Linked DNA regions of Homo sapiens. The protein of the gene in region 1 purifies or fractionates together with the protein of each later gene. This does not show direct contact. Each region holds a gene or a part of one and is shown on either strand. Other genes may lie near its edges.

Region 1 (5,553 bases):
CAGACATACTTTGAGAAATACACTACCCTTGGCTTTTTGGTTTCAAGTCTAGCTTTGCTAGTAAATAGGTTATAGCATTAACTTTTAGCATTTGCACTTTCTGGGCCTTATGTTTCTTCAAATATAAAATGAATGACTGAAGTTGATGTTTTCTACTGGCTCTAAAATTAAGAAAATTTGGTTTTTAAAATTATTATTATTTTTTTAGTGATGAGGGGTCTTGCTGTGTTGCCTAGTCTGGTCTTGAACTGGCAGGCATGATGGCACATGCTTGTAGTCCCAGCTACACAGGTAGCTGAGGCAGGAAGATTGCCTGAACCCAGGAGTTTGAGGCTGCAGTGAGCTGTGATAGCACCATTGCACTTCAGCCTGGGCTTGGATTAAAGGAATGAGCCCCTGCACCCGACCCTATTTTATTTTATTTTTATTATTTAATTTATTTACTTTGAGACAGAATTTCACTCTTGTTGCCCAGGCTGGAGTACAATGGCATGATCTCGGCTCACTGCAACCTCTGCCTCCCAGGTTCAAGCTATTCTCCTGCCTCAGCTTCCCGAGTAGCTGGGATTACAGGTGACTGCCACCACGCCCAGCTAATTTTTTTGTGTTTTTCGTAGAGAGAGGGTTTTGCCATGTTGGCCAAGCTGGTCTCAAACTCATGACCTCAGGTGATCTGCCTGCCTTGGCCTCCCAAAGTGCTGGGATTTTTCAGGCGTGAGTCACCATGCCTAGCCTCTATTTTATTTTTAAAATTCCATTTATATTTTAGATTCAGGAGGTATGTGTGCAGGTTTGTTACAAGGGTATATTGTGTGGTGCTGAGGTTTGGACTTCTGTTGATCCCACCACCGAGATAGTGAACACAGTACCCAATAGGAAGTTTTTCAGCCCCTGCCTGTCTCCCATTTGGGGGCCTCCAGTGTCTGTTGTTCCCATCTTTATGTTCATGTGAACTCAAGATTTAGCTCCTAGTTATAAGTGAGAACATGCGATATTTGGTTTTCTGTTTCTGTGTTAGTTCACTTAGAATAATGGCTTCCAGCTGCATCCATGTTGCTGCAAAGGACATGATTTCATTCTTTTTTGTGGCTGCAAATTTTTTGTCTTATAACCCTAAATTTTTTTGAGACAAGGTCTTGCCCTGTTGCCCAGGCTGGAGTGCAGTGGTGCTATCACAGCTCACTGCAGCCTCAAACTCCTGGGCTCAGGCAATCCTCCTGCCTCAGCCACCTGTGTAGCTGGGACTACAGGCGTGTACCATCATGCCTGGCTAGTTTTTACATTTTTTCATACAGACGAGGTCTCACTATGTTGCCCTTACTGGTTTCAAACTCCTGAGCTCAAGTGATCCTCTTGCCTTGGCCTCCCAAAGTGTTAGGATTATAGGTATGAGCTACTGTGGCCAGCTAACCCTAAATTTTTGTTCTTGTGGATGTAAGTATTTGGTCTGGTGGTGCTGATGCCACTTTTTGGCATAGGTTCAATAGAGGTACTTAAATGTTTTGTTATTTGGGAACTCAGAGTATTCTTCCTTTTTTGAAGACTGTGGTAGAACTAGATTAACTAGATTCAGGTAGATCTCATGGAACCTCAGGATGCAGTTAGGCCTTAAGAATTGGGGATTAGAGCAGAATAGGGAATTCAAAAAGTTCCCTTCCTTTTTTTTTCTTTGAAAATTGGCCTCAATCTCTTGACTTCTTCTGCCTTCCAGGCAGTATTATAGAAAATGCCCCTGGCCAGCAGCTTCTGAGTTTACATGGCTTCTATTTTAGAAAGCCGCCATATTGAGACTGGACTATTTAATTCCAATTGCACATTGCCAGGAAAGAAACTGTGGTTGTACACACTGGGTACGGTGCTGACTTCTGGCAATGGGTAAGGAGGCAGACTCATGTTACTAAGATGGCCCTGGGATTCCTGCCACTTTTCTGAGTTGCAGAGCTGGTTAGAAGTGGTGGTGGTAAACTGAGTAGGTATCCACCTCCTTTATGAAAGCATTTCACTAATTGAGGAGTCACAATGTTGTATTTTGCATAGAACCCTTACAATTGAGTCTCATGGAAAAAAGTAGAAAGAGGGAGAGACAGGCTAAAAGAAAAAGTAGGCTTGTGCTTTTATTCTTAGTTATGTACCAGATGGGATGGAGCCTTCTATAGTTACTTCTACTGGACTGTGCTTTTTCATCAACAGTGAATTTTTAGATTGCTTTTGGATATAGTTTTCTTTTTTAAAAATTATATAATATATAATTTTGAAGTCTCCTTGTAATGTTTGTTTTATATATTTGGAATTAATTTTTGAAATAAAATATTATATGAGGCTATAAAGGGTATTGATTGGTAGAAAGAAGCACAGGCTTTTGAATCAGACAGGCTTTGCACTTCAATTTTTTTTTTTTTTTTTGAGACAGTGTCTCACTCTGTTGCCCAGGCTGGAGTGCAGTGGCACGATCTCGGCTCACTGCAACCCCTGCGTCCTGGGTTCAAGTGATTCTCCTACTTCAGCCTCCTGAGTAGCTGAGATTACAGGTGCTTGCCACCACGCCTGGCTAATTTTTGTATTTTTAGTAGAGATGGGGTTTCACCATGTTGGCCAGGCTGGTCTCAAACTCCTGACCTCAAGTGATCCGCCTGCCTTGGCCTCCCAAAGTGCTGGGATTACAGGCGTGAGCCACTGCACCCAGCTTCCATTTTATCTCTGCCTTTTAGTGACTGATTTCTTGATCTCTCTGTGAAATGAACATAATAATCCTTATATCATGGATTATCTGAGAATCAAACGAGATGATGTATGTCAAGCTCTTATACTATGTTTCCTAGAAAGTAGGTGCTCAATGAATGATAGATATTATCATTGTTATTTTGTTACTTAGAATGTAATTGGTGATCTTCATGATATTCTACTCATGGTAAAGACTGACTATATCTTGGGCTTTAAATATATCAGTGTTATTTGAGGGTAAAGACATAAAACATTTTTTAGATCTGAAAACCAGGAACTAGAATGTGAAAGGAAATATTTTTGCATTGAGCATTTATTGCTTTACATGTATTTATTCATTAAAGATTTCAGTGGAAATTTTTTTGATCTCTTTAGTGTCAAACCAGAAGAGAAGTAAAATTCAACAAAAATTTATGTGTGGAGTTCCTTCTTAAAAGAAGAAAAAAGTGATTATTTAGACTATGGATCGGAGCAAACGGAATTCAATTGCAGGATTTCCTCCACGTGTGGAGCGTCTTGAAGAGTTTGAAGGAGGTGGTGGAGGAGAAGGAAATGTGAGCCAGGTGGGAAGAGTTTGGCCATCTTCGTATCGAGCTCTTATAAGTGCCTTTTCCAGACTGACGCGTTTGGATGATTTCACCTGTGAAAAAATAGGGTCTGGCTTCTTTTCTGAAGTGTTCAAGGTGAGTGAGTCTTCAGCTTTTCTCATATTGTCTTGCTGTGGTCACATTTACTGCAGGTTGATAGTTGTGTTTAATTAGGATGTAGGATTTGCCTAATAAAGGTGCTGTGGATCTTGAACACTGTTCTAAATTCTCCTTTCAAGCTATTTATTAACTTATATTAAGATATTTTGTTTGAATCCCAAAAATAATATGCTGGTTAAAAATTCAAATAACATAGGATTCTCTTCCACCTCACCTCTACCCCCAGCCACACATGTGTGTATGTATCCACACATACATTCTCCAGTAATAACCACTATTAACAATTCAGTATGTATACTTCTGGACTCTTTCTGTGCATATACATATATTATGCACACACCTTAAATACATATATTAAAATTATATATACACACACCCACATATATAGTTTTTGTTTGCTTATCTTCAGTAAAATTGATAGCTGGGTACAATGGCATGCACCTGTAGCCCGAGCTACTCAGGAGGCTCGCTTGAGGCTGTGAGTTTGAGAGCAGCCTGGGCAACATAGCAAGGCCCTGTCTCAAAAAATATGAGCCCATAATGCTCCTAAGCAATCATATTTCCCTGTTTCACTCACTCCCTCAAGAGAGTATTTTGTACCTTTTCTTCTCTCATCAAATCCCAGTATTTCCTCACTAGTCCTCATTGTCAGTAATTAATGAATTGCTTCCCAATTCACTGAGAAAATTGAAGCAAGCAGAAGAGAACTTCTGCAGACTTCCATTACTACAAATAGCTATCAACACACATCTTTACCCAGTTACTTGGCCTTTATACCTTGTACTATGGATCAACTACTCATGCTCCTAAGTCCATTATTTCTGTTTATATTGTACATTCCATTTCCACTTGCCTACTAATAGGCATTGCCTAAGAAATTCTCCCCTCTCTTTTCTACATTGTATTTTCACTACTAAGTATTACCATTAACATGTTAAAAAAATTCTTTTAAGGAAAAAAAAAACCCAAATATTTTGGCTCTGTTATTTCCCCTTTATTTTATTTTATTTTTATTTTTTTTGAGATGGAGTCTCACTCTGTTGCCCAGGCTGGGGTGCAGTGGCATAATCTTGGCTCACTGCAACCTCTGCTTCCCGGGTTCAAGCAATTCTCCTGCCTCAGCCTCCCTAGTAGCTGGGATTACAGGCGCCTGCCACCACACCTGGCTAATTTTTGTATTTTTAGTAGAGACAGAGTTTCACCATTTCGGCCAGGCTGGTCTTGAACTCCTGACCTCAAGTGATCCACCTACCTCAGCCTCCCAAAGTGCTGGGATTATAGGCATGAGCCACCGCGCCCAACCTATTTTATTCTATTATTTTATTTTATTTTATTTTATTTTTTGAGACAGGGTTTCGCTCTGTCACCCAGGCTAGAGTGCAGTGTGGTGTGATCATGGCTTACTGCAGTCTTGACCTCCCTGGACTCAGATGATCCCCCCACCTCAGCCTCCAGAGTAACTGGGACTACAGGTGCATGACACCATGCCCAGCTAATTTTTGTATTTTTTGGAGAGTTGGGGTTTCACCTTGTTGCCCAGGCTGTTCTTGAACTCCTGGGCTCAAGTGATCAGCCTGCCTCGGCCTCCCAAAGTGTTGGGATTACAGGTAAGAGCCACCACACCCAGCCCCTATTGTTTCTTTTATTAATAGGTATACTTTCCCATGTCTTGTTTTTTTTTGGACCAAAACAACTCCATAGAGTTGTCTCTATGTACCATTTCCAGCTTCTTTCTTTCTAATGTGTCTTTCTCTAAAATACTTTTTATTGCAGTAAAATATATATAACATAAATTTACCATCTTAGCCATTTTTTAAGTGTACAGTTCAGTGTCATTAATTACATTTACAATGTTGTACAACCATCTCCATTATCCTTTTCCAGAACTTTCTCATCACCTAAACAGAATCTCTGTACCCATGAAACGTTAACTCACTAATTCTCCCTTCTGTAACTGTAAATGGGTTCATTGCCCAATGCACACAGCAAGTCAATAAGCTGAGACTCCAGGTTGCAGCAGAGAAAGGTCTAATCATAGGGCCGCCAAATGAGGAGATGGAGGAAAACCTCAAATTCATCTCCCGTAAGAGATGGGGGCTAAGGTTTTTTAAGGGTTTTGAAGTGG
Region 2 (5,529 bases), on another chromosome or scaffold:
TCACTATGTTGCCCAGGCTGGTCTCGAACTCCTGGACTCAACTGATCCTCCTGCCTCAGCCTCCCAAAGTGCTGGGATTACAGGTGTGAGCTTCTGTGCCCAGCCATAAGTGGATTTTTAAAATTATGGATAATATACATTTACATAAGTCAAGGTCTTTAGGGAAAAATAATCCGTCTTTTAAATTAGCAAGCTATTTTTCTCATCTCAAACCCCACAGCATTCTCGGTAACACTCAACTCAGCTCCCTCTGACCTCCAGAAAACTTGGTATTCTATCATTTTCTTGCTCACATTGAGTCTCCCTGGCCAGATTTTAAACTGCTCAAGCAAACACTGTTGCCAAACCATCCATTACATTCCAGATCTTGAGTCACTGTCAACAGGTCTGTGAAAACCTGGCAGTCAGAGGTGTCAAAGTAAAGGCAGGAGCATCAGGGTGTGGAAACCTAGAGTAAACCTAATCGTTCCTTCGCCCAGAGCCGTGGTTTGGCTGCAGTTGGGATATCTATGGTTTTGGCTGGAGACTGACCCCAGGAAGCTGTGAAGCAGTAGCTCAGAGCTTCAAGTGGGTCAAAGTGTTTTCCTGAGAACAGGATGAAAATGTGGGGACTCCAGAGTCTGGCAAGCCAAAGGCAGTGCTGTAGTACAATCTAACCTGCAAAATCCTGGCAATGTGGCATAGTCAAGGGCTCGCTGCCTCAAGCCAGAACATTAAAACAAGCAGGCAACAAACAGTTTTTTAATTTTTCTTGAAATGGAGTCTCGCTCTGTCGCCCAGGCTGGAGTGCAGTGGCGCAATCTCAGCTCACTGCAAGCTCCGCCTCCCAGGTTCATGCCATTCTCCTGCCTCAGCCTCCTGAGTAGCTGGGACTACAGGCCCCCGCCACCATGCCCGGCTAATTTTTTTATTTTTATTTTTAGTAGAGATGGGGTTTCACCATGATAGCCAGGATGGTCTCGATCTCCTGACCTCGTGATCCACCTGCCTCGGCCTCCCAGTGCTGGCATTACAGGCGTGAACCACTGCGCCTGGCCAACAAACAGTCTTAACACAAATAAAATAACGACTGGGAACAATGATGTAGCCTGCCAGAAGGCAGGTAACACAACCAGGATGAAAACAATCAGGTAAGCGCAGTATGCTTGCCCAACCCATTCACTATCAAGAGAAACTGGCTGCTTGGGAGACCTTTCAAGTAAGTTAGGTGACTTAAAGCAGAACTCCTCTGTACCCCACAAATCCTTCTGTATCTGTCAGCAACAGCCAGTTAAGCATTGACAGGCTGGCGGTCCCTCTACCTCCCCTCGCATCCCCGCTTCTGTGCTTTGTCCATAACAGACAGTGGTGCTGCTGGCACAGACTGAGACACTGGGTAAGCAAACATGAAAGCAGGGGAGGCCGGGCGCGGTGGCTCACACCTGTAATCCCACCACTTTGGGAGGCCAAGGTGGGCGGATCACTTGAGGTCATCAGGAGTTCGAGACCAGCCTGGCCAATATGGTGAAACCTCGTCACTACAAAAAAAACAGTAATGAGCCGGGCGTGGTGGCACATGCCTGTAATCCCAGCTACTCAGGAGGCGGAGGCTGCAGTGAGCCAAGACTGTACCTCCAGCCTGGGCAACAAAGCAAGACCCTGTCTCCCAAAAAAAAAAAGCGGGGAAAAGATCGGGCTGCGCACCCTGAAGGAAGAGACAGGAGGGTGAAGTTCAGGAAGACAAGATGGAAACATTCTTATATCCAGATCTGGGTGGTGCCTGCACAGAGCACACATACAATACTTCACTGATAAGTATGCTTAAGACCTGTGCCATTGCCTTATATAACCTACACCTCCATGAAAACCCAAAACAAACAGGCCACAAGCTCCCTGTTTGCTATCCTTTATTAAAGGGCCCACATCCTCATGGGACTCCAGCCAAACCAGTCAGGTCCCCCAAATATAGCAGGAGGCCTGGAAGGGGAGGGGAATGACTTATGATCCTACCATGCCTCCCAAGAAACAGAAACCACCACAGACAGACAGACAGACGGACAGGGGCTGGGGAGAACTTGCCTCACTCTCAGTCCTCTCCCACTTTCCCCCACTTGAAAAGAAAGTCAAACACTGGCTACGCAGCACCCCAGCCCCCCACCCCACCCATAGCAGCGTTTGTGGGACACACCCCCTTTGCAAGGGGTGGCCCCGAGGCAGCTTCCTATCTCTCTCTTCACTTTGGTTTGCTCCTGGCAACTCCGTGCCCTCTTCCTTTCCTCAGCCTCCGGCTCGGTCTCCCCCTTGTCTTCTATCACCTACTCGGACCTTCTCTCTCATCTCCTGGGCCTCCCTGCCCCAGCACTTCTGGGGAAGCAGCGTCTCGGGCGTCTTCCCTTCTCCTAGCAAGGGGCCCCACCAGGCCCTCTGCCCAGGATGTGGGACTCACACAGCTGCCCCACTCTCCTTGAGGTCAGGGGCAGAACGCTGCCGTCTCATTCGTGGGGGAGTAGTGTATGGGGGGTAGCGGGGCCCTGGGGGCCGCTGGGCTGGGTAGGGTTGGGGTGGCTGGGGATAAGAGTTGTGCTTTTTGGGCTGGAAGTGCTGGGGTTCAGGCTGTGCAGAACCCGCTCCCCGGGATCGGCCCCCTCCATCCAGGGAGTTCCTGCGGGGATGGTGGGACCTTCGGGGACTCGGAGGCCGGCGGGCAGGGGTGGCTGGATGGGGAGTGACCTCCTCAGGGGGTTGGAGCGGAGTTGGAGCCTCCCCGCTCCCCATCCCTGGCCAAGACTCCCGGTGCTGGGGGTTGCTCTTGAAGGGGAAGCGTAGCTTGCAGTCGTGAGGGGGCACAAAGCGGGCTGGGGGCCTGCGCAGCCCCCCGCCCCGGCCCCCAGAGCCCTGCAGTCCCTGCAGCCGTAGCTGCTCCTGCTTGAGCCAGCGAAGACGACCACGACGGAAGGCAGGGTCCTCCTCCATGAGCCGTGACACCCGCTCCCAGCTTGACAGTGGTGGCGAGGGGGGCCGGGCTGACGGCATGCGGTCACTGGGGGCTGCCTCCTCTGCTGCCTCTGATCCTTCAGGCGGGGCCCAGGGGACCTCACCACCTTCTTCATTCTCATCCTCATGATCCTGGGAGGGAGGAGTGAGAAAAGGAGAAGGGATGTGAGGAGAGCTGAATCCTCAGGACATGTGGATTCAAGAGGGACCTGGAGTGGCTGGATGTCAAAGGGTCCAGAGAAAAGCCTAGAGATAAGGAAGCTCGAAAAATAGTGGTTTAGGGCCGGGCGCAGTGGCTCACGCCTGTAATCGCAGCACTTTGGGAAGCTGAGGTGGGCGGATCACAAGGTCAAGAGATCAAGACCATCCTGGCCAACATGGTGAAACCCCGTCTCTACTAAAATACAAAAAAAAAAAATTAGCCGGGTGTGGTGGTGCGCGCCTGTAGTCCCAGCTACTCAGGAGGCTGAGGCAGGAGAATGGCTTGAACCTGGGAGGCGGAAGTTGCAGTGAGCCGAGATTGTGCCACTGCACTCCAGACTGGCAACAGAGCAAGACTTCACCTCAGAAACAAAACAAAACTGCAAACTTTATATCAGTGGGTCTTAGACTTCACTGTATTTCAGAAACACCCAGAGCTTATTATAAATGCAGATTTGTCCCCAAAGATGTGGATTCAGTAGGTCTGGGGTGGAACCCGGGAATCTATTTTAATTAGCAGCCTGGTGACAGCGAGGCATGTGGTTCGTAAACAATATTGAAAAAAACGTACTATACTTCAATGCAATTTTTTCCAGACTTGGGGAAGGTTAGGCTCTGAGATGGAAGGTTCAGACTCCTAAAGTGAAGAGCCGAGGGAGGAGAGAAGGGAGGCAGAAGGCCAGTCCTACCTGGGCCAGGGGGATGACCCTCTCCATGCGGAGCATGCGGTCCCGCAGGGCCTGCAGCTCCCGGTCCTTGCTGCTGTTCTGCAGCTTCACCTCCTGCAGAATCCCCGTCAGCTTGTCGATGTGGGCCCGGAGGTCCTCCACCTCCGCCCCTCGGGCTCCCTCCTCACTGCCACCACCACTGCCAGCTCCACCTCCTTCCTCCTCGCCTACAGTGTCCCAGACATCCCGGGCCACAGCCCTCCAGGCGTCTCCGGGGCCGTCTGGCTTGCCATAGGTGCGACACAGCTCCCGCATCTTGAGGGCGGCCAGGGCCTCAATCTCAGCCCGCCCGTGGCGGAAGTCAGCCAGGGCCACCTCGTAGCAGATCTCCTTCACCGCCTGCATCTTCAGGTCAGCCATGGTGGCCCAGCGGGGGTCTTTGCCCTGCAGCCTGCGTCGCTGGGGGATCTGATAAACCCTGCGAGGGGCCCTGCGCTTGCCACTGCTGGGCAGACCACAGCGTTTGACAATGGTCTGGACCGTGGTGGGCGGCAGCTGCTCCCGCAAGGAGGAGATGAGCCTCCAGCTCTCTTCACAAGAGCGCTTGTCAGAGTCATCCCCGCTGTCCGAGTCTGCATACTGGGGCCAGAGAAAGAAAGAGGAAGAGAGGGCTAAGGACATCCAGAGCCCATGTGTCTTGGCCCAGTGTGTCCTAAGTACACTGGAAACACGCCCATCAGGGAGCCTGGGTTCAAGTCCTGCTCCACCCCAACAGCGCACCCTTGGGCAGACTGCTTAACGCTGCTCTTCTAGACAACAGAGATAGTGACGGGATCTACCTCCCAGATCCACGTGGAGTACTTAGAACCATGGCCGGCACCGAGAAAGTTACCATAAGTATTAGTTGTAGCTAATCGAGTGTGGAACTTTGTGCAAGACTTAAAAGACCATTGAGGGGTGGTGGCTCGTGCCTGCAATCCCAGCATGTTGGAAGGCCAAGGCAGGAGGATCACTTGAGCCCAGGAGCTGAAGACCAGCCTGGGTAATGTAGTGAGACCCCCACCTCTACAAAAAATAAAAAATGTAGCCAGGCATGGAAGTGCACACCTGTGATCCCAGCTACTCAGGAGGTTGAGGTGGAAGGACTGCTTGAACCCAAGGAGTTCGAGGCTGCAGTGAGCTATGATCAGGCCACTGCACTCCAGCCAGGGTGACAGAGCAAGATCCTGCCTCAAAAACAAAATAGAAAGTCCATGGCCGGGTGCGGTGGCTCATGCCTGTAATCCCAGCATTTTGGGAGGCTGAGGCAGGCGGATCACCTGAGGTCAGGAGTTCGAGACCAGCCTGGCCAACATGGTGAAACCCTGTCTCTACTAAAAATACAATAATTATTAGCCAGGCATGGTGGCGGGCTCCTGTAATCCCAGCTACTGGGGAGGCTGAGGCATGAGAATCGCTTGAACCCAGGAGGCGGAGGCTACAGTAAGTCGAGATCATCCCACTGCGTTCCAGCCTGGGTGACAGGAGACTCCATCTCCAAAAAAAAAAAAAAAAAAAAAAACCACAACAATCTTAATACCAACACAGGTGGTACTTGGATATGGTGAAAATCATAAACTTGGCACGAGAAACTGGAGTATGGGAAGGCCTGGTCAACTGGAGGAATCTTCCTTCCTTCCTCACAATG
Region 3 (5,553 bases), on another chromosome or scaffold:
AGGGTCCCATACGGATCAAGACCCTGTCCTAGTAGAGTCCTGAGGCCTGGCCTGCTTCCCATTTTCTTGCTAGGGCTGTCCCACAAGCCCCACTGGGCAGAGGAGGTACATGCTGGATTCTCTCACCATGGTCTGAGGCAAAGCAGTCGATGACAGCCATGTTCTCCCACAGGGCTTCCACATCCTGGCGGGAGCCAAGCTCAGGCCGGACCTCCCCCTTCCCAGGCCCCAGGCGCTCCAGGTCATCATGGCTTAGGAACAGGTGGTGGGGAGCCACCTCGCAGGTCACTGGCAAGCCCCGTGCCTTTGCAGCTTTAATTAGCAGGATCTGGGGAACAATGGGAAGATCCAGAAGAGGCACCACCCATATGCCTTGCCCTACACAAAGTCCCAATGGCCAACATCCCTGCTCAAAAAATGATGATGTAGACCTGCAAGGGTGCTGGCTCGAGACCCTCCTCCTGCTGTCTCCAGACTCTCCTCCTGCTGTCTCCTGCCCCTAAGGACTACCCTGACCTTTGGTGTTACTGGGAAAGCAACAGGGACAGCAGGATCTCAGGTGTACTCTTACCTCCTCCTTCCGTGCCACGTGACATATGTGCACTGAGCGCTGAGTGAGCTGAGCCACCATGAGGACAGCAGCCACGGTTTGCTGCTCTGCGTGAGCCACAATGGGGAGGTGGGAGGGCCATGTCTCGAAATGCTGGGAGCAGAAAGAACTGATGAAGGAGTGTGCAGAATCTCTGACTGTGCTCATCAGAGCCCAGAGTCCCCAGGAGCTCCCCTGAATCCTCACTGCTACCAGCCCACTTAGGCAGGGGCCCACAAGCCAGGAGACACTGGGTGGTGGCCTCCTGCCACATGCACACTCCCTACCTCCATCCACTGGACCACGCTGTCCAGCCGCAGCTCAGAGAAGGTCTCATTGAGGTAAAGCTTCAGCCCGGCTGCAGACCCGGCCACGGTGCCCAAGGTTCCTGCATTTTCAGACGAGGCCCCAAGGAATAGCGCAAAGTCGCACCGGGCGCCAGCCTCTGCCAGCTGGAGAGGATACACAGAGGTAAGGCTCACTGGCACCCATGCCCACACAGGCTAGCCTGGCACCAGTGGCCTGGGCCCATAGGGCGGGGCAGAAGGAAAAGGGCTCAGGGAAGCAAGGGTGGCTGGTAGGGGCATATGGGTCTCCAATACCAGGAAGAGTGCAGTGGCTCACCTTCTGGGCCAGGGCCAGAGCAGGGGCGTCAATGATGGGGGGCCGGGTATTAGGCATGGCACACACCATGGTGATACCCCCAGCCAGGGCAGCGGCTGTGCCTGAAGCAAAGTCCTCCTTATGTGTCCCACCTGGTTCCCGCAGGTGCACATGGACATCAATCAATCCTGGGAGAAAATGGAAGCAGCAAGATTACAGGAAGATTCAGAAATAGGAAGGGTGAGCTGGACATGGTGGCTCACGCCTGTAATCCTAGCACTTTGGGAGGCCGAGGTGGGCAGATCACCTGAGATCAGGAGTTCGAGACCAACCTGACCAACATGGTGAAACCCCGTCTCTACTAAAAACACAAAAATTAGCCTGGTGTGGTAGCACACACCTGTAATCCCAGCTACTTGGGAGGCTGAGGCAGGAAAATCGCTTGAACCTGGGAGGCGGAGGTTGCAGTGAGCCGATATCACACACCACTGCACTCCAACCTGGGCGATGGAGTAAGACTCTGTCTCAAAAAAAAAAAAAAAAAAAAAATTCCTCAGACAAGGCCACTGTGGACACTGTGGATTAAGGAATGAAAGAGTGAGAAACATTCTGGGGTCTTCACAGTCTGTGCAGTCCAGGACAAAGAGTGGGCCCCCCAGCCATCCTTCACCACACTGCAGGTCTCTATGCCAGGGGCTGCCAGTGTTCAGAAGCCAAGTTCTCCCCAAAGACTTACCCGGCAGTCGCACAAGCTTTTGGGAGGTCATACAGTCAACATGCACCTTCAAAGGAGGGGCTGGCCCGATCTGGCCTAGGGCCTGCAAGTGGAAAGCAGTCAGCTTTAAGGGAAGGGTGATCCTGGGAGTTGTAGGGAGAGATGTGGTTTTCCCATAAACCAGGCTCTGCACACTCTATACCCACCATCTCTCCCTCTGTAGCCACAAAGCTTTATTACTAGCATGGCTGTTCCATACTCACTCCTCCCTCTTTCTTCTTCCCATCAACACTGGCAGTCTCCCTCCCAGCACATGGGTCTCAGTTACCTCCACAAAGAGTTTGGTGCACTTGATATCGATGATTAGGGGCACGGAGAAGTCAGCGGCCAAGCGTCGGGTGCGGTAGCCCTTGGTGACAAAGGAAGAGAGACGCCGGCCCCCAGCTCCACGCATTGACAGGTTAATCACCAGCTCAAAGTTTTTCTCAGCTAGCTGCTCCAGGATGCTCCGCTGTGGTGGGCACTCACCATCCACAGCCTCCTCAAAGTGCCAGTCCACAGCTGTTACCTGCCAACCCGGAGTCAAGGTCAGGGCCAAGCTGTCTGGCAGCGGTCAGGAAGGCTAGCCTTAAGGGAGAGGAGCTGGCCCAGGAGCCCATGATGAGGAGACTGAGGACCCATAGGGTGGGCACTGAGGGCTGCCTCTATTTGATACTGGCAAAGTGTATTTCTTGGCAGGAAAGATATCTACACTAAGTAAGATGGGTTACCAAGGACTAGGTGCAGTATGAGCTCACACACATGTACACAGAGAAAATCCTGGAAGGAAAAATATCAGAACAGTGGTACAGAGATTTTAAGAGACTTTTCTCTTTGCTTCCTGTGTATTCTGCTTTCTGCATGGAATATAGCTTACTAGTATAATGGTAATAATAAAAGCAGGGGAATAGGAGATAATTCTTTGTTTTTTTTTTTTTTGAGACAGCATCTCACTGTTTCCCAAGCTGGAGTGCAGTGGTGCACTCACTGCACACTCGCAGCTCACTGCAGCCTCTACCTCCTGGGCTCAAGAGATTCTCCTGCCTTAGCCTCCTGAGTATCTGGGACTACAGGTATATGCCACCGTGCCCAGCCCAGATAATTCTTTGGTGCAGTATTTTCACCCCCTTGGGGAAGGGCAGCAGTGGGGTAGGTTGCCAGAGTTCCTGCACCTTGACGCCATGCTCAGTGTAGAAGTCAGCTGTGCCGAGACTGGCATAGAGGCTGTAGCCCAGGCTCTCCAGTAGCCGCACAGTTGGGAGCAGCTCGCTTTTGTTCTGAAACCAAACAGAAGGATGAAATTGTTTTCTTCCTGTCTTCCATTTCAAGGTCAGCCCTGGCCCAGGGAGCCACGGCCCTCGGGAAGCCCTCCTGGATTCTGATACCTTATAGCTGCCAATGGTCAGCAGGATATTCTTCTTGGGGATCTTAAAGCCAGTGCTTAGCATGGCCTTGAGGTATGCCTCACAGCGGCTCTCCCCAAAGCCGGCCACCTCCCCAGTACTGGTCATTTCCACACCCAACACCACGTCAGCACCCGCCAAGCGGGAGAAGGAGAACTGAGGCACCTAAAGGGGCGGGAGGGAAGAGAGAGGGCCAAGGTGTGAGAGGACCTCCTCCCTCACCAGCAGAGACGGACACAGTACCCTGTGCTTGATCCCATCTGAATGGCAGGGTCAGCCTGCCCTCTCTGTGTGCCCTCCTGCTTTCCAAACGTACTTGGGGTCATCCCTCAGCTTCTGCTTAGGATGTGCCCTTGCAAATAAAAAACCTTAACCATCCTTCAAAACTCAATTCAAATAGCACCCCTTCGCTCAAGCCTTCCCAGATCACCCCTTTTGGAAGCAGCACCTCCTGTCTCTTGAACTCCTGCAGCATTCTGTTTACAGGTCGAATATGTAGTTTTACCACGGACTGTTCTATACCAAAGCTTTTTTGGGGATCCAACTTCTCTTCCCTCCCATTACCATAAAGTAAGCTCTTAAGGGACAATGACCACCTCATTACCCCCACGATCCGGCAATGCCTTGCAGTCAGTGCCTGGTTTACATACTGACAACTCTGTGTGGTGAGTGAACTCTCTCCCGCTATTTTTCTGCTAACCCCAAGGGTTTCGATATTCCTTACCTTTACTCCCACGACTCCAGAACCAGTCATTAGCCCCACAGGTTCCACTTCTTCCCCCATGATGACCCGCGTGGCCAAGGCTACTAGGTCCACACCCAGTGTCTTGGAAACGAAGGGGAAGGAGCGAGAGACACGTACGTTGCATTCAATAACTTTCAGCTGGTCATCCTGGGGCAGAGAAGACTGGTCAGGCCTTCTGCAGGTTGGCCTTGCTGACACTATCTATAGGCCTAGACTCTTCCTCTCCGTCCTCAGCTCTGGGGGATCAGACTGAGCAGGGTTCAGGGTCACTGACTGTCATAAGCCCCAACACCATGAGCTCTAGCTACAGCCCTTTCCCTCCAGCTTCCCTGCCTACTTGGATGAAGGCAGGAGACAGTGCAGGGCTTCATGGCACTGTGGCCAGCACAGAACATGCAAGAGCTGTGGCCCTTTAGTTCTTTCCTTTAGCCTTATTACCTTGGCAATGAGCTGCAGATTGAAGGGTCCTGTGACCTGTAGCTCCTGGCCCACAGCATGCACAATGGCTTTGATCCGCTCCAGGGTTTTGGCAGTGATATCTTGTGGGGGGGTCACCAGCGTCGCATCACCTGAATGCACACCTGCATTCTCCACATGCTCAGAGATGGCGATGGCTGCCACCACACCATCAGAGGCCACGGCATCCACGTCAATCTCCTAGCGGGGGGACACAGACAGTGGGACATAGGGCCACTTTCTTCTCTCACTTACTCTAGGATTGTCTCTTCCTTTAACGAGCCCCACATAGCCCACTGTTCCCAGCCCTGGTGCCTATGATTCTGCTGGACCAGAGAAGGAAGTCTCCTCCAGGGCTGGCAGCATGCCCTCAGAGACTTCACTGTCTGCAGCCTCCCACCTTAGCCTCCTGGATGAACTTGGAGATGACCACGGGATGCTCTTTGGAGACGGCTGCTGCGCTGCTCAGGAAGCGCTCCAGGTCTCCATCCGTGTAGGCCACATTCATAGCAGCACCGCTCAGCACATAGGAGGGGCGCACCACACAGGGGTACCCCACGGTCTGGCAGAATTGGCGAGCAGACTACAGGAGGCAGGGAGCTTAGCTGAGTTGTTCACACTTTCCCCCAAGCATCATCCAGCCTCCGGGTAACCCACCAGGTCCCAGCCCACCTCGAGGTCACTGAGCTCCCTCCACTGAGGCTGGCTGATACCAATGGTGTCAAGGAGCCGGGAAAACTTGAAACGGTTCTCAGCCGAGTCAATGGCTTCAGGGGAGGTGCCCAGCACCCGGCACTGCTGCCGATGCAACGCCATGGCCATGTTGTTGGGCAGCTGTCCACCCATGGATAGGATCACACCTTCAGGGTTCTCGAGCTCATAGATGTCCATCACCACCTACGTTGCAGGGGGAGAAACAAGTGGTGGCAGCAAAAGAGGGCAGGAATCTGAGCCTTCCTGCTCACTGCTTCCCTCAGCCGCCACCAAGTTTCAAAGAATCTTA
Region 4 (6,197 bases), on another chromosome or scaffold:
CAGTATCACAGATAAACATAACCAAAACTATATATATATATATATATATATATATATATATATATATATATATATATATATACACACACTCAGATATACATATGCACATACACAGAAATACATTTTCAAGACAGTAACAGAAAAATGTTTCATCCTCTTTTCCTATTTTTCCTAGTTAAACCAACTTAAACAAATAAAAAAATTCCCACCGACTGTAGCTTTGATCATTTCCTTAGGCTTTTCAGTTATTGGTATAGTTTTCAAACAATCTTGATCTTTGTTCCAAAGGAAAAGCTCTCCTGTAGTTAGTACCCCAGCCAGCCAGGCATCTGTTTCCAAAAATGAAATGCAATACTTACAATCTAGTATTTCCTTTAACATCACCCTAAGTTATTAAAAAATATAGTTTTAGCCATTTGAAAATATCAGTACTACTTAACCATTACTGGATGTTGTTAGGACAATAACATCCTTCAAGAAAGGCTGCAGACTAGGAATTTTCTTCTTTATCTTTCCTGATAGCAAATTAATTTCATTTATGAATTTATCATCCAAAAGAAAAACGGCTTCTTTTTCCTAAGAGAAGAAACATGTGAAGGACTCAAGAGGTGCCAGAAATTAATTCAACTTACTGCCTAAATAAATTATCCCAGAAATCAAAGCGACATTTAAGAAAGATTATCCATTTGTACCACAAATCATAAAATGAACATTAAGCTTAATACTCTATAGTAGCCTGAACATTTTGAATTGTTTTAAAATACCTCGTTAGAATTAATAGGTAAGGCTACCTAGTAGTTGTATTTCAATTTCTTTGAAGTTTAAAATTATAGGAGTGTCCTCTAATTCTGCTAGCCAAAACTGGCTTATCTACTTTTTAATCTTTTTTTTTTTTTTTTTTTAAGAGCTGAGGTCTCACTTTGTTGCCCAGCCTTAAGTGGAGTAGATATTTACAGGCACTATCCCACTACTAATAAGCATGAGAGTTTTGACCTGGCCCATTTCTGACCTGGACCAGTTCACCATTCTTAGGCAACCTGGTGGTTACCCCAGCCCCTTGATCTCGGGAGGTCATCATATTGATACCGAATTTAGTGCAGACACGTAATCGGTATAGCACACTGCAGCCCAGAACTCCTGGGCTCAAGCGATCCTCTTGCCTTAGCCTCCTGAGTAGCTGGGACCACAGGTGCATACCACTGAACCTGACTCTCATCAATTTTAACAGTAGTATGAGCAAGTTTTTAAATTATTTACTTAGATTAAAATAGATATAGCTTCTGAAATTCATAAATCCCTGACTCTGCTCATTTTTTATTACCTAGAAAAAGTAGGCTGTTTTGAGTTAACTTTGTTTTCATATATTCTAAGGCAGTGATTTTCAAGGTATAACTGAGCCAGCAGCATCAGCAACACCTCAGAAGTGAGGAGTTCAAGACCAGCCTGACCAACATGGTGAAACCCCTAGCCTCTACTAAAAATATAAAAATTAGCTGGGCATGGTGGCATGCGTCTGTAATCCCAGCTATTCAGGAGGCTGAGGCAAGACAATCGCTTGAACCTGGGAGGCTGAGGTTGCAGTGAGCCGAGAGGATGCCATTGCGTCCAGCCTGGGCAACAGAGCGAGACTCCATCTCAAAAAATAAAAATAAAAAAATACAAAATATCCAACCCTACAGCAGACCTAATTAACTGAAAACTTTGGGAACAGGGCCCAGCAATCTGTGTTTTAACCACCTCTCCAGATAGTTCTGATAGTTTGAGAACTCCTGTTACAGGGGAGTTAGTGGTATAATTTCTCACAGGAAATTTAACACTTTATTTCAATAATCATCACAAATAAAGTAGGGTTGCCTACTTTCCCTAAGTGGGGAATCTATGCCATATATTATGAATGGCATTCCTGGATTACTAACGTATTGTGGCCCATTTCTTCCATCCTAGTTTCCAAGAACACTTCATAGCACAATCATGAAAACCACAATAGGAGGAAACACTCCATTAACTGTTCCAGTAAAGGAAAGCTCAGGACATTAAATATTCCCTTTTGATATATGCCATCTCAACTTAACTTAAACTTGACTTAAACATAATATGAAAAAAATAGTTTAAGTAAAAATCTTCTAAATAAACCACTTAACATTCTGGAAAAGCTAACTTGCTCATTATAATAAAAACGAAACACACACAAAACCCTGTTCAGTGTGCAGGTAGGTGATCCTCCTGTAGATCCTCCTCCAGTAGATGATGTTTTATTTATTTAAGATCATAGAACACTCCTATATTACAGGCAAAACACACATATAACATATATAAAACTGGTATTGCATGAATAAAGAAAAACCTACCTTTCCCAACCAGGAGACACGTGGCCATGGTTTTTTCTGCTTAATACCTGTTGATGTCAAGATTTCTAATCTTATCTCCATGTTTGTTAAGCTATCAATGACCAATTAAGTAAAACAGTCCCAAGATTCTGTAAACAATAATAGTAATAAAATATAAATGATGCATAATATTCACTGGGCATTTTTTTTTTTTTTTTGAGACAAGAGTTTCGTTCTGTTGCCCCAGCTGGAGTGCAGTGATATGATCTCAGCTCACTGCAACCTCCGCCTCCCGGATTCAAGTGATTCTCCTGCGTTAGCCTCCCGAGTAGCTGGGACTACAAGCGTGTGCCACCACGCCTGGCTAATTTTAAGTAGAGATGGGGTTTCACCATGTTGGCCAGGCTGGTCTCAAACTCCTGACTTCAAGTGATCCATCCACTTCGTCCTCCCAAAGTGCTGGGATAACAGGCACGATCCACTGCGCATGGACCACTGAAGATCTTAACTGACAATTTTCATAAAGTTTTGATTTATATTTTATTTCTGAGTTGAAGTTTTGCTCTTGTAGCCCAGGCTGCAGTGCAGTGGCGCGATCTCGGCTCACTGCAACCTCCGCCTCCCGGGTTCAAGCGATTCTCTTGCCTCAGCCTCCCGAGTAGCTGGGATTACAGGCATGCACCACCACACCGGACTAATTTTTTTGTATTTTTAGTAGAAACCGGGTTTCACCATGTTGGCCAGGCTGGTCTCGAACCCCTGACCTTGGGTGATCCGCCCGACTCAGCCTCCCAAAGTGCTGGGATTACAGGCGTGATCCACTGTGCCCGGCCAAATTAGATGGGCTTGTTTTTTTGTTTTTTTAATAAAATAGCTTTAAAAGAAAAACTACTCAGAGACAGCACACAAAGATCTATCAAGATGCTAGCTATCAGTCAGCACGGAGGCTGAGATGGGAAGATCGCTTGAGGACAAGAGAGTTCGAGGCTGCAGTGAGCTGTGATTGTGCCTGTGAGAGCCACTGCACTCCAGCGTGGGCAACGCAGCGAAGACTCCGGCTCAAAAATAAATAAATAAAATTGCAAATAAAATAAATTCTCACAAAAGGGTTAACCAAATGCCAGAGAAACGCCGGCATTAGAAAAGCATCATTTGCAGCTCCTAATGAAATAACAAATCCAGTCAATAGTATCAGCGCTGCTAAAATTATTGAGTGAAAAAATACTGGGAACTTTATGCACTGACATACCCTAAATCCATTAGTCAATCTTAAAATTGCTAAGAGCGAGGAAAATTGACGTTCTATTCCTCCGGATCCTGCTCGAGAAGCTGGGGGACTCGGGTCCGGTGCCGAGGTGTGGCCCGAGCCTGGCACCACCCACGCCGGCCGGGTGACCCCGGCCCCTTGGGGCTCCCGCGCTCCGTCAGCAGGCGACGCTGGGAGGCTGGGGTAGGCCCAGAGCGAGGACGGGCCCGGACTGGGTAGTGGGGATGTACCAGGGCCGGGTGCGGCGGGAGACGGCCCGGGAGGCGGAAGGTCGCGGACCTGCCCGACAGAAGAGTAGATGAGGGGAGACCGAGGACGCCCGGGTCCGGGGAGCTTACGAGGAGGCCAGGATCGCGGGGTAAGGAATCCGCGGGCAGTTACCTCCGCCAGGGGCAGGGTCCGGCCAGTCAGGCGCGAGAAGGCTAGGCGAGGCCGACTGCGCGGGGTGAAGACGCCAGGCCGACAGCTGCGGGCCCTACCGCCAGCCCTGACGCGAGCCTGCGTCCTGGCGACGGCGGAGGGCGGGCAGGGGGCGCGGGCGCTGCCACGGCGCCTGCTCAGAACCGGCCGGGAACGCCGCGGGCGGGTCTCCCCGGTCCTCCGCCCCTCCAGCCCTGCTCTCAGGCCTCCGCCCGGGCCCTCTAAGCTGCCAGCCGCGCCCGCCTCCGGGCTCCTCGCCCCTCCTCCCGCGCGCTCCCCTCCTCAGCGGCCGCCGGACCCCCTCAGTTCACTTCTCCCAGTTAACGCGTTCCTCGGACGCTGCTAGTTTGAGCGCACAGGCATTGGGCGGGGCTCACGGGGGAGCCGCTTAATAACCGACCAACATGAAACTCAAGGGCTGCCCCTTCCTAGCGGGGACCCTGCACAGACCCGAAAATAAGGGGTTTTGCTCTGCCCTCCTCAGTTCACGTGGGCACCTTGGAACACTGAAGAAGGCATTTTCCGAACTCACTGTCCTACGGACTTATTCTCCGCACTGTTTTCGCCTCCTTCGCCCTGTTCTCGTGACTGACAGGAGCAGGGGTCACAAGCAGGCAGCCCGAGAGCTCTGCTCACCTGGAAAAGCATTTTTGTGTAGCTTAAATGTGAAGGCCTCAGGCAGTGGCCTGTTGTCCTCCTCCACATGCGCCCATCTTCACTCTTTCATGTGACTGGCCTGTTTTTGAAGGCAGGACCCTGTCACCCTTGGCTAGGCCAGGTATGTTCTGCACCGAAAATGGCCCTGCCCTCTGCATTGGATGGCTAGCTCTTAGGTTGGTTTATTTTAGCAAATAAGCGTTACAGGGTAGGCGAACTGGCTGCATCAGAACCACAATTACCCCTGTGTCTCTGGGTGGGATAAATGGCGGATGGCATTCTGGCAGCTCAGCCCCACTTATCTCAGAGGTTATAGATCTGAGGTGGTTTAGATCCACCCCCAAATCACGAACATTTTACATAAGCCGTGCTAGAGTTAGCATAAAAGTCTCACAGAAAAATTTGGAAACTGAGAAATCCTAACCTATTCCCACAATCCTGTGTTCCCATTTTTAGGTCTTAAGATATGAAGACAATGGGATAACTGAGGCTGATTTTGCTGTGTGGCCATTAGACCTAGAAATATTGGTGTGATTCTGGAGTTGATTGCTCCACACGTTTATTTATTTATTTTCCTTTTTTTCCCTCCTCTTCCTCCTCCTCTATTCTTTAAAAACGTATGGAAATGTATCCGGCAATGTTTACTGTAAAAAATAATGTATGGAAATGACTACAATTTGCTAAAATAAAAATCATTGAGCACTTATGTGTGTCAGACACTATGCTAGGTATAAAGAGGGGAAGATGGTGTCCCTATTCAAAAGAGAGTCACACACACTTAAGTTACAGTGCAGTCATAAATACCATGATCGCAGTATGCACAGGTCCATTTTCTCTATCTGGGTGATGGGAAGGTTCAAAACTAAGCTAGGTTTTGAATGAGGAATAGTTTCATTTTGAAGCACATCCATTTTGCGATGCCTCTGGAGCTATCTAGTGAACAATTTAGATGCGTGGTTCAGAAGCTCGATGGGAGGCTTGGGAACACAGAATGTGTAAAATAAGCATCAGTCTCCCTTTCACCCTCTCTGCACTTTTTAAGGGTCATCTGTCTTTAGTATATATTGGTAAGAGATTTTATGGAGGATACCAATTCTTTTTTTTTTTTTTTGAGACAGAGTCTCACATTGTCACCCAGGGTGGAGTGCAGTTGCACGATCTCTGCTCACTGCAACCTCCGCCTCCCGGGTTCAAGCGATTCTCCTGCCTCAGCCTCCCAAGTAGCTGGGATTACAGGTGCCCACCACCAGGCCCAGCTAATTTTCGTATTTTTAGTAGAGACGGGGTTTCACTATGTTGGCCAGGCTGGTCTTGAACTCCTGACCTCGTGATTCACCCACCTCGGTCTCCCAAAGTGCCGGGATTACAGGTGTGAGCCACCGTGGCCTGCCAGCATACCAATTCTTATGAGAGAATGTCAGGGGTAGAAGAGATCCAAGGAAATGGTTGACCAGGTAAAAAACTGATAAAGGTCAAATAGAAATAAGCCTGAGAATTGCCCCATCAGATTTGGTTTAGTGTTTAGT
Region 5 (5,553 bases), on another chromosome or scaffold:
CCTGGCCTGAAATAGTTTATCCTTTAAGGCCTCTCCTGGTTCCTCCACTTCTGATGATCAGTCTTCCTACTTGCCTGTTAATGCTTCCCCTTTTGTACTCACTTTATTTTTTATAACTTTTGTTATAGAAATTTTTACATGTTTTTAAAAAGTTTTTTTCCCTCAACATTAATGTATGTTCATTAGTAGAAAACTTGGAAAATATGTGGGCGAGTGTAAAGAAATGTAAACCACCTGACTCTTCCCATTCCAAGATGACCGTCATGAGTATTTTGGGTGCACTTCTTTCCATCTTCTGTGCAGTGCTCAGTTGTGCCGAGCCCACTCCTTGCAGCTGTGTGACTGTGTTGTTGGCCTCCTTCTCAGGTTCAGCTCTGTTCAGCTCCTTGGGGATCTCCTGTTTCACATCTCAGGAGTCACTGGGAAGATGACCACAGAAACTGCCTCTGAGGATGATAACTTTGGAACTGCCCAGTCCAACAAGGTGCCTGCAGTGGCTTTCCTGCCCCTGCTGATGGTAGGGTGTGCCCTGATGCCCATGCCATAGAGGCTTCACTACTCTCTGTCCCCTTCTACTGGCTGCAGGCGATCATCACTGCCCTGGGGGTAGAGCGGCGGAACCGGGTGTTGGCAGGGCTGTACATGGGCCGCTCAGACACCCAGCTGGTGGTGCGGCAGGCGTCCCTGCATGTCTGGAAGATTGTTGTCTCCAATACCCCCCGCACCTTGCGTGAGATCCTACCCACTCTCTTTGGGCTCCTGCTGGGTTTCCTGGCCAGCACGTGTGCAGATAAGAGAACGGTGAGTTTCCTGGGCCTTGTTTTGGACCAGCAGCCCCAGTGCCTCCTTTCAGAGCCTAGAAGGCTGGGTCTGCAGAGCCTGGGAAAGTACCCATCCACCCTGCCTAACAGAGGGACATTGTGTTCTTTACTTAGTCATTCTGCAAATATTTTTTGATTAATTTTATTTTATTTATTTTTTTGAGGTGGAGTCTTGCTCTGTCGCCCAGGCTGAAGTGCAGTGGCGTGATCTCAGCTCACTGCAAGCTCCGCCTCCTAGGTTCATGCCATTCTCCTGCCTCAGCCTCCCGAGTAGCTGGGACTACAGGCATCCACCACCACACCTGGCCATTTTTTTATATTTTTAGTAGAGACGGGGTTTCAGCACGTTAGCCAGGACGGTCTCGATCTCCTGACCTCGTGATGCGCCCGTCTCGGCCTCCCAAAGTGCTGGGATTACAGGCTTGAGCCACCACGCCTGGCCTCTGCAAATATTTATTAGCATCTCCTGTGCACTAAGCAGGGGCCTAGCACCTGGGGACACAATGGAGAAGAAAGGCAGCTTCATTCCTTATCCTCATGAGAGGTAGTCTAGTCGAGGAGATGGATATTAATCAAATAACCACACAAAGAGATGTAAAATGCGACTGTGGCCAGTGCTGCATGGCACTGCAAATGCTTATAATAGCTGCATTTGACCTGCTGGGGAGGGATGGGCCTGTGTTAGTGAACACTTCTCAGAAGAAATGATGCTGGAAGATGAAAGATAAGTAAGCACTAACCAGGTGAGGAGGTGGCGAAAGACCATTCCAGACAGAGGGAATAAATAATGTTTCAGATACAAAGACAGGATATGCAGAGGTCCCGTGGTGGGCAGGAACATAGCACCAGTAGGGGCTGAGCAAGGCCAGTGTGGCTGGAGTGAGGAGGCAGGGAGGAGCAGTGCGGCATGAGATCAGGCTGGCGCGCTGGCAGGGGCAGACAGATCAGTGGGCCTGGAGGAGGTGCCCAGATGGGCTGGTGATCATTTCTGCCCATCTCCTTTGGTCTACTTCCAACCCCCCATCCTTGGCAAGCAAATTGTGTATTTGGCTCTAAAGAAGGGTTTGCATGAGGTCTCAGAAAGTAGATGTTTTTTTTTCCTTAAAGCTTTGTTCCAGATTCGGCTCCTGCTCAGCCATAGCACAGTGTTAAGGCTTCAGTCATCCAGGGAAATTGGCCCTTGACTGTGCAGCAGATGATGAATTTTTTGTACATGTGTAAGGTGCTGCTGGCTCTTAATGTTAGGTTGTGTAGGTGTGTGTGAAACAGATAATTTTTTGGTAGTGTTTTGCAAGCACTACAGAGAGTATTTGGGGGCTCTTTAGGGGTAAGAGCATTTGGGGAAGTTAAGTCAGTGATTCAGATAAAGCCTGGGAGGTTTCAGGGCCCTCATTCTGGAGTCCTCCTCTGGGTGCCCTGGGCTTTGCAGGGACTTTACTTCCTGGATTGGTCTCTGTTGACAGATTGCAGCGAGAACATTGGGAGATCTTGTGCGGAAGTTAGGGGAGAAAATCCTCCCCGAGATCATCCCCATCCTTGAGGAAGGCCTGAGGTCTCAGAAGAGCGATGAGAGGCAGGGTGTGTGCATTGGCCTAAGTGAGATCATGAAGTCCACCAGCCGGGATGCCGTGAGTATCTTCCAAGGATCCCGCCAGCTGTGCACTGCAGACGACCTGACTCAGAGGGCGGGGGAGGGCTACTGAAGGAGGTTCACCTCTAGGGGGTTTGTGCTGCCCTCAGGGATGAGCCAGTCTCACTCTGGGGAGGTGCTGGCTGGGCCACATGGACTTGAGGCTCCGTCTTCTCAGCTTTCCTGTCAGTTTTGCAGGCTAAGAGCTAAGTGATTTGGATGCCTCCTTGAGTGGCCTTTGGAAACTGGAGATGATCGCTCTCTTACAACTGTGGAGGTTGCTCAGGATCAGTCTCTTTTGTGATGCTATATAAGTCCAGTTAAAATGTGTGCACCTCCTTCTGGGAAAGGGGATGGACAGCTGTGTGAGTGGGTAGGGCAGGAGGGTGCGGGAGGGGGTGTGCACTCACCCTTAGCAGGAGGGGAGCAGGTAAGAGTTGTGGTGCCAGGTGGGAGGAAGCATATTGCGTCTGGCAACAATACTGTTTCCATAGCAGCAACGTTCAAGGGGTGTGAAGTCCATTACTCTTACTTGGTTCCTGAGTTAAATGATCCTGGAGACCACCCTGGGGAGTAGGTTAGGAGTGCTTTTAGGCACTGCCTTCGTGTTTGGATGAAAACGCCAAAGCAATTAAGTGGATGGCCCGCTAGAAATGTAAGCAAGTGGCCAGTTGCTTGGCTTGGGCATCCTTGTCTGAATTCCTAGGATACCAGATCCCTCTTCTCCTATATTGATGTTTGTCTTACGTTTGGTTTTTAAAATTTACATTTGGCAAGGAATCAAAAGAAATTCTGTCATCAGAAAGAGTTGTGATTCATTGGAGAGGTAGAGTTCCACAGAGGCTGAGTTCTTGTCTGCAAAGTCCCCACAGTCCAATGGCAAGGCCCACATGCCAACCAGTCATTAGAATGCAGAGTGGGCTTTGCTGTGCTGGGATCGTTACTGAGGGAGCAGAGCCATTATTGGCTCCATTGTAGACCCAAAGACTTCATAGAGCACAAAGTCTGGATTGAGACTTGAAGAAGGACTTGGAGTTTTCCAAGAGAATAAGCAAAAGAAAGAGTCCAGGGAGAGAGGGGGCCAGATGCCATGGGAAGGAGTTTGCAGTTCTTAGAGAAGATGGGAGGTATATTGAGAATTCACCTAAAAGATTCAAGCTGTTGATTATTAAGTCTCAGTGAAGGATACATGGGGGTGCATCACATCCTCTCTGCTTTTTTTTTTTATTGAGACGGGGTCTTACTCTGTCACCCAGGCTGGAGTGCAGTGGTGCGATCATAGCTCATTGTAACCTTGACCTTCTGGGCTCAAGTGATCCTCTCGCTATGGCCTCCTGAGTAGCTGGGGACTATAGGTGTGCACCACCACACGTAGCTAATTTTTGCATTTTTAGTAGAGGTGAGGTCTCACTATGTTGCCCAGGCTGGTCTCAAACTCCTGGCCTCAAGTGATTCTCTTGCCTCCACCTCCCAAAGTGTTGGGATTACAGGCGTGAGCCACTGTGCGCGGCCCCTCTCTACTTTTTAATTTTTTTAAAATTTTTAGTTTAAGACAATCTCACTCTGCTGCCCAGGCAGGAGTACAGGGGCACCATCTCTTTTGGCTACAGCCTCTGCTTCCTGGGTTCAAGCGATTCTTGTGCCTCAGCCTCCTGTGTAGCTGGGATTACAGGTGTGCACCACCACACCCAGCTAATTTTTGTATTTTTAGTAGAGATAGGGTTTTGCCATGTTGACCAGGCTGGTCTCGAACTCCTGGCCTCAAGTCATCCGCCCACCTTGGCCTCCCAAAGTGCTGGGATTACAGGTGTGAGCCACCGTGCCCGGCCCCTTCTCTCCTTTTTTTTATTTCACAGTAAAGAGTTAAGTTAAAAGACAAGTCAGGCAAAGAGAGTTAGGGTGGCCTAGCTGGGTCAGAGTCCCCTGCCTGTGCTTCTTGTCTGCTTCTGCTCCTTCTTTGCCTTTCCTGCATCTGGTACAGTTGTAGCTTGCCATTGCAGGTGCTGTATTTCTCTGAATCCCTCGTGCCCACGGCAAGGAAGGCTTTGTGTGACCCACTGGAGGAGGTCAGAGAGGCGGCAGCCAAGACTTTCGAGCAGCTGCATTCCACCATCGGCCACCAGGCTCTGGAGGACATTCTCCCATTTTTACTAAAGCAGCTGGTGAGTGGATCTACCACACACCTACCTACCAGTTTGGCTTTTGCCGTCTTTGTAGATGGAAAATACAGGGCGATTATTCTGCCAAGGCAGTCGCAATGTGGGCCCTCCAGAGGGAGTGGGTATAGCAAGATCAGACTTGGCTTTGTGCTTCGCCTTCGGCAGTGAGGAAATGTGGGTGCAACAGGAGGGAGGGAAACAAGTGGAGAAGGAAGTTGGCGGTGGCTGGTTGAGACAGCAGAGATGCAGATTCCTCAGGGTTGTCCCCAACACCCTCTGCAGGATGACGAGGAGGTGTCAGAGTTTGCCTTGGATGGTCTGAAGCAAGTCATGGCTATTAAGAGTCGTGTGGTGCTGCCCTACCTTGTGCCCAAGGTAAATCCCAACATGTGGTCAACACCCTCTGGCTCCAGGGCATTGACATTTCCAGGGCCTGCAGTGAAGACCAGTTCTGAACGTAGATGTTGGAGGGCTGGGGGAGGAGGGTGCAGTGCAAGCATTACATCCTTCCCCTGTTGTCTTCCAAGATATGCTGGAGTAGATGCTTGGCTCTGAGCAGTGGGCTTGGGCTCTCTTGCCCACCCGTCTGTTCCCAGAGCCTAGCGCAGCACCTGGCACAGTATTCACTGAGTTAATGTTTGTCATTCCACCAGCTGACAACGCCACCTGTCAACACCCGGGTGCTGGCTTTCCTTTCGTCAGTGGCTGGTGATGCCCTCACCCGTCATCTTGGCGTGATCCTCCCAGCGGTCATGCTGGCCCTGAAGGAAAAGCTTGGGACCCCAGATGAGCAGCTGGTAAGGGGCGAGCCTGCTCCTGCTTTCTCATGTCCCGTCTGCCCGGAGGATCCCTGCTCAGCACACATGTCCCTTGTGGTTTGCAGGAGATGGCCAATTGTCAGGCTGTGATCCTCTCCGTAGAGGATGACACAGGGCACCGGATC

The links.
Region 2: the proteins of TESK2 (region 1) and KIF1C purify together in Homo sapiens (affinity purification with mass spectrometry, with the first as the bait; one large-scale study listed by BioGRID). This does not show direct contact.
Region 3: the proteins of TESK2 (region 1) and CAD purify together in Homo sapiens (affinity purification with mass spectrometry; one large-scale study listed by BioGRID and IntAct). This does not show direct contact.
Region 4: the proteins of TESK2 (region 1) and CPLANE1 purify together in Homo sapiens (affinity purification with mass spectrometry; one large-scale study listed by BioGRID and IntAct). This does not show direct contact.
Region 5: the proteins of TESK2 (region 1) and GCN1 purify together in Homo sapiens (affinity purification with mass spectrometry; one large-scale study listed by BioGRID and IntAct). This does not show direct contact.

The regions. Positions count from the first base shown.
Region 1 is NC_000001.11:45,455,415-45,460,967, reverse strand, and holds part of TESK2 (dual specificity testis-specific protein kinase 2), read left to right. Parts: intron 1-3,096; 5' UTR 3,097-3,182; coding exon 3,183-3,404; intron 3,405-5,553. UniProt on the Homo sapiens protein: Dual specificity protein kinase activity catalyzing autophosphorylation and phosphorylation of exogenous substrates on both serine/threonine and tyrosine residues. Phosphorylates cofilin at 'Ser-3'. May play an important role in spermatogenesis.
Region 2 is NC_000017.11:5,021,044-5,026,572, reverse strand, and holds part of KIF1C (kinesin-like protein KIF1C), read right to left. Parts: intron 4,482-5,529; coding exon 3,864-4,481; intron 3,106-3,863; coding exon 2,422-3,105; 3' UTR 1-2,421. UniProt on the Homo sapiens protein: Motor required for the retrograde transport of Golgi vesicles to the endoplasmic reticulum. Has a microtubule plus end-directed motility.
Region 3 is NC_000002.12:27,233,206-27,238,758, reverse strand, and holds part of CAD (multifunctional protein CAD), read right to left. Parts: intron 5,448-5,553; coding exon 5,223-5,447; intron 5,134-5,222; coding exon 4,951-5,133; intron 4,752-4,950; coding exon 4,533-4,751; intron 4,242-4,532; coding exon 4,074-4,241; intron 3,515-4,073; coding exon 3,332-3,514; intron 3,224-3,331; coding exon 3,119-3,223; intron 2,476-3,118; coding exon 2,236-2,475; intron 2,011-2,235; coding exon 1,929-2,010; intron 1,381-1,928; coding exon 1,214-1,380; intron 1,042-1,213; coding exon 877-1,041; intron 704-876; coding exon 572-703; intron 329-571; coding exon 127-328; intron 1-126. UniProt on the Homo sapiens protein: Multifunctional protein that encodes the first 3 enzymatic activities of the de novo pyrimidine pathway: carbamoylphosphate synthetase (CPSase; EC 6.3.5.5), aspartate transcarbamylase (ATCase; EC 2.1.3.2) and dihydroorotase (DHOase; EC 3.5.2.3).
Region 4 is NC_000005.10:37,245,270-37,251,466, forward strand, and holds the start of CPLANE1 (ciliogenesis and planar polarity effector 1), read right to left. Parts: upstream 4,108-6,197; 5' UTR 3,976-4,107; exon of another isoform or gene 3,577-3,975; intron 2,477-3,576; 5' UTR 2,430-2,476; coding exon 2,349-2,429; intron 577-2,348; coding exon 441-576; intron 330-440; coding exon 210-329; intron 1-209. UniProt on the Homo sapiens protein: Involved in ciliogenesis. Involved in the establishment of cell polarity required for directional cell migration. Proposed to act in association with the CPLANE (ciliogenesis and planar polarity effectors) complex.
Region 5 is NC_000012.12:120,137,755-120,143,307, reverse strand, and holds part of GCN1 (stalled ribosome sensor GCN1), read left to right. Parts: intron 1-366; coding exon 367-484; intron 485-585; coding exon 586-801; intron 802-2,284; coding exon 2,285-2,449; intron 2,450-4,451; coding exon 4,452-4,613; intron 4,614-4,892; coding exon 4,893-4,985; intron 4,986-5,263; coding exon 5,264-5,407; intron 5,408-5,493; coding exon 5,494-5,553. UniProt on the Homo sapiens protein: Ribosome collision sensor that plays a key role in the RNF14-RNF25 translation quality control pathway, a pathway that takes place when a ribosome has stalled during translation, and which promotes ubiquitination and degradation of translation factors on stalled ribosomes.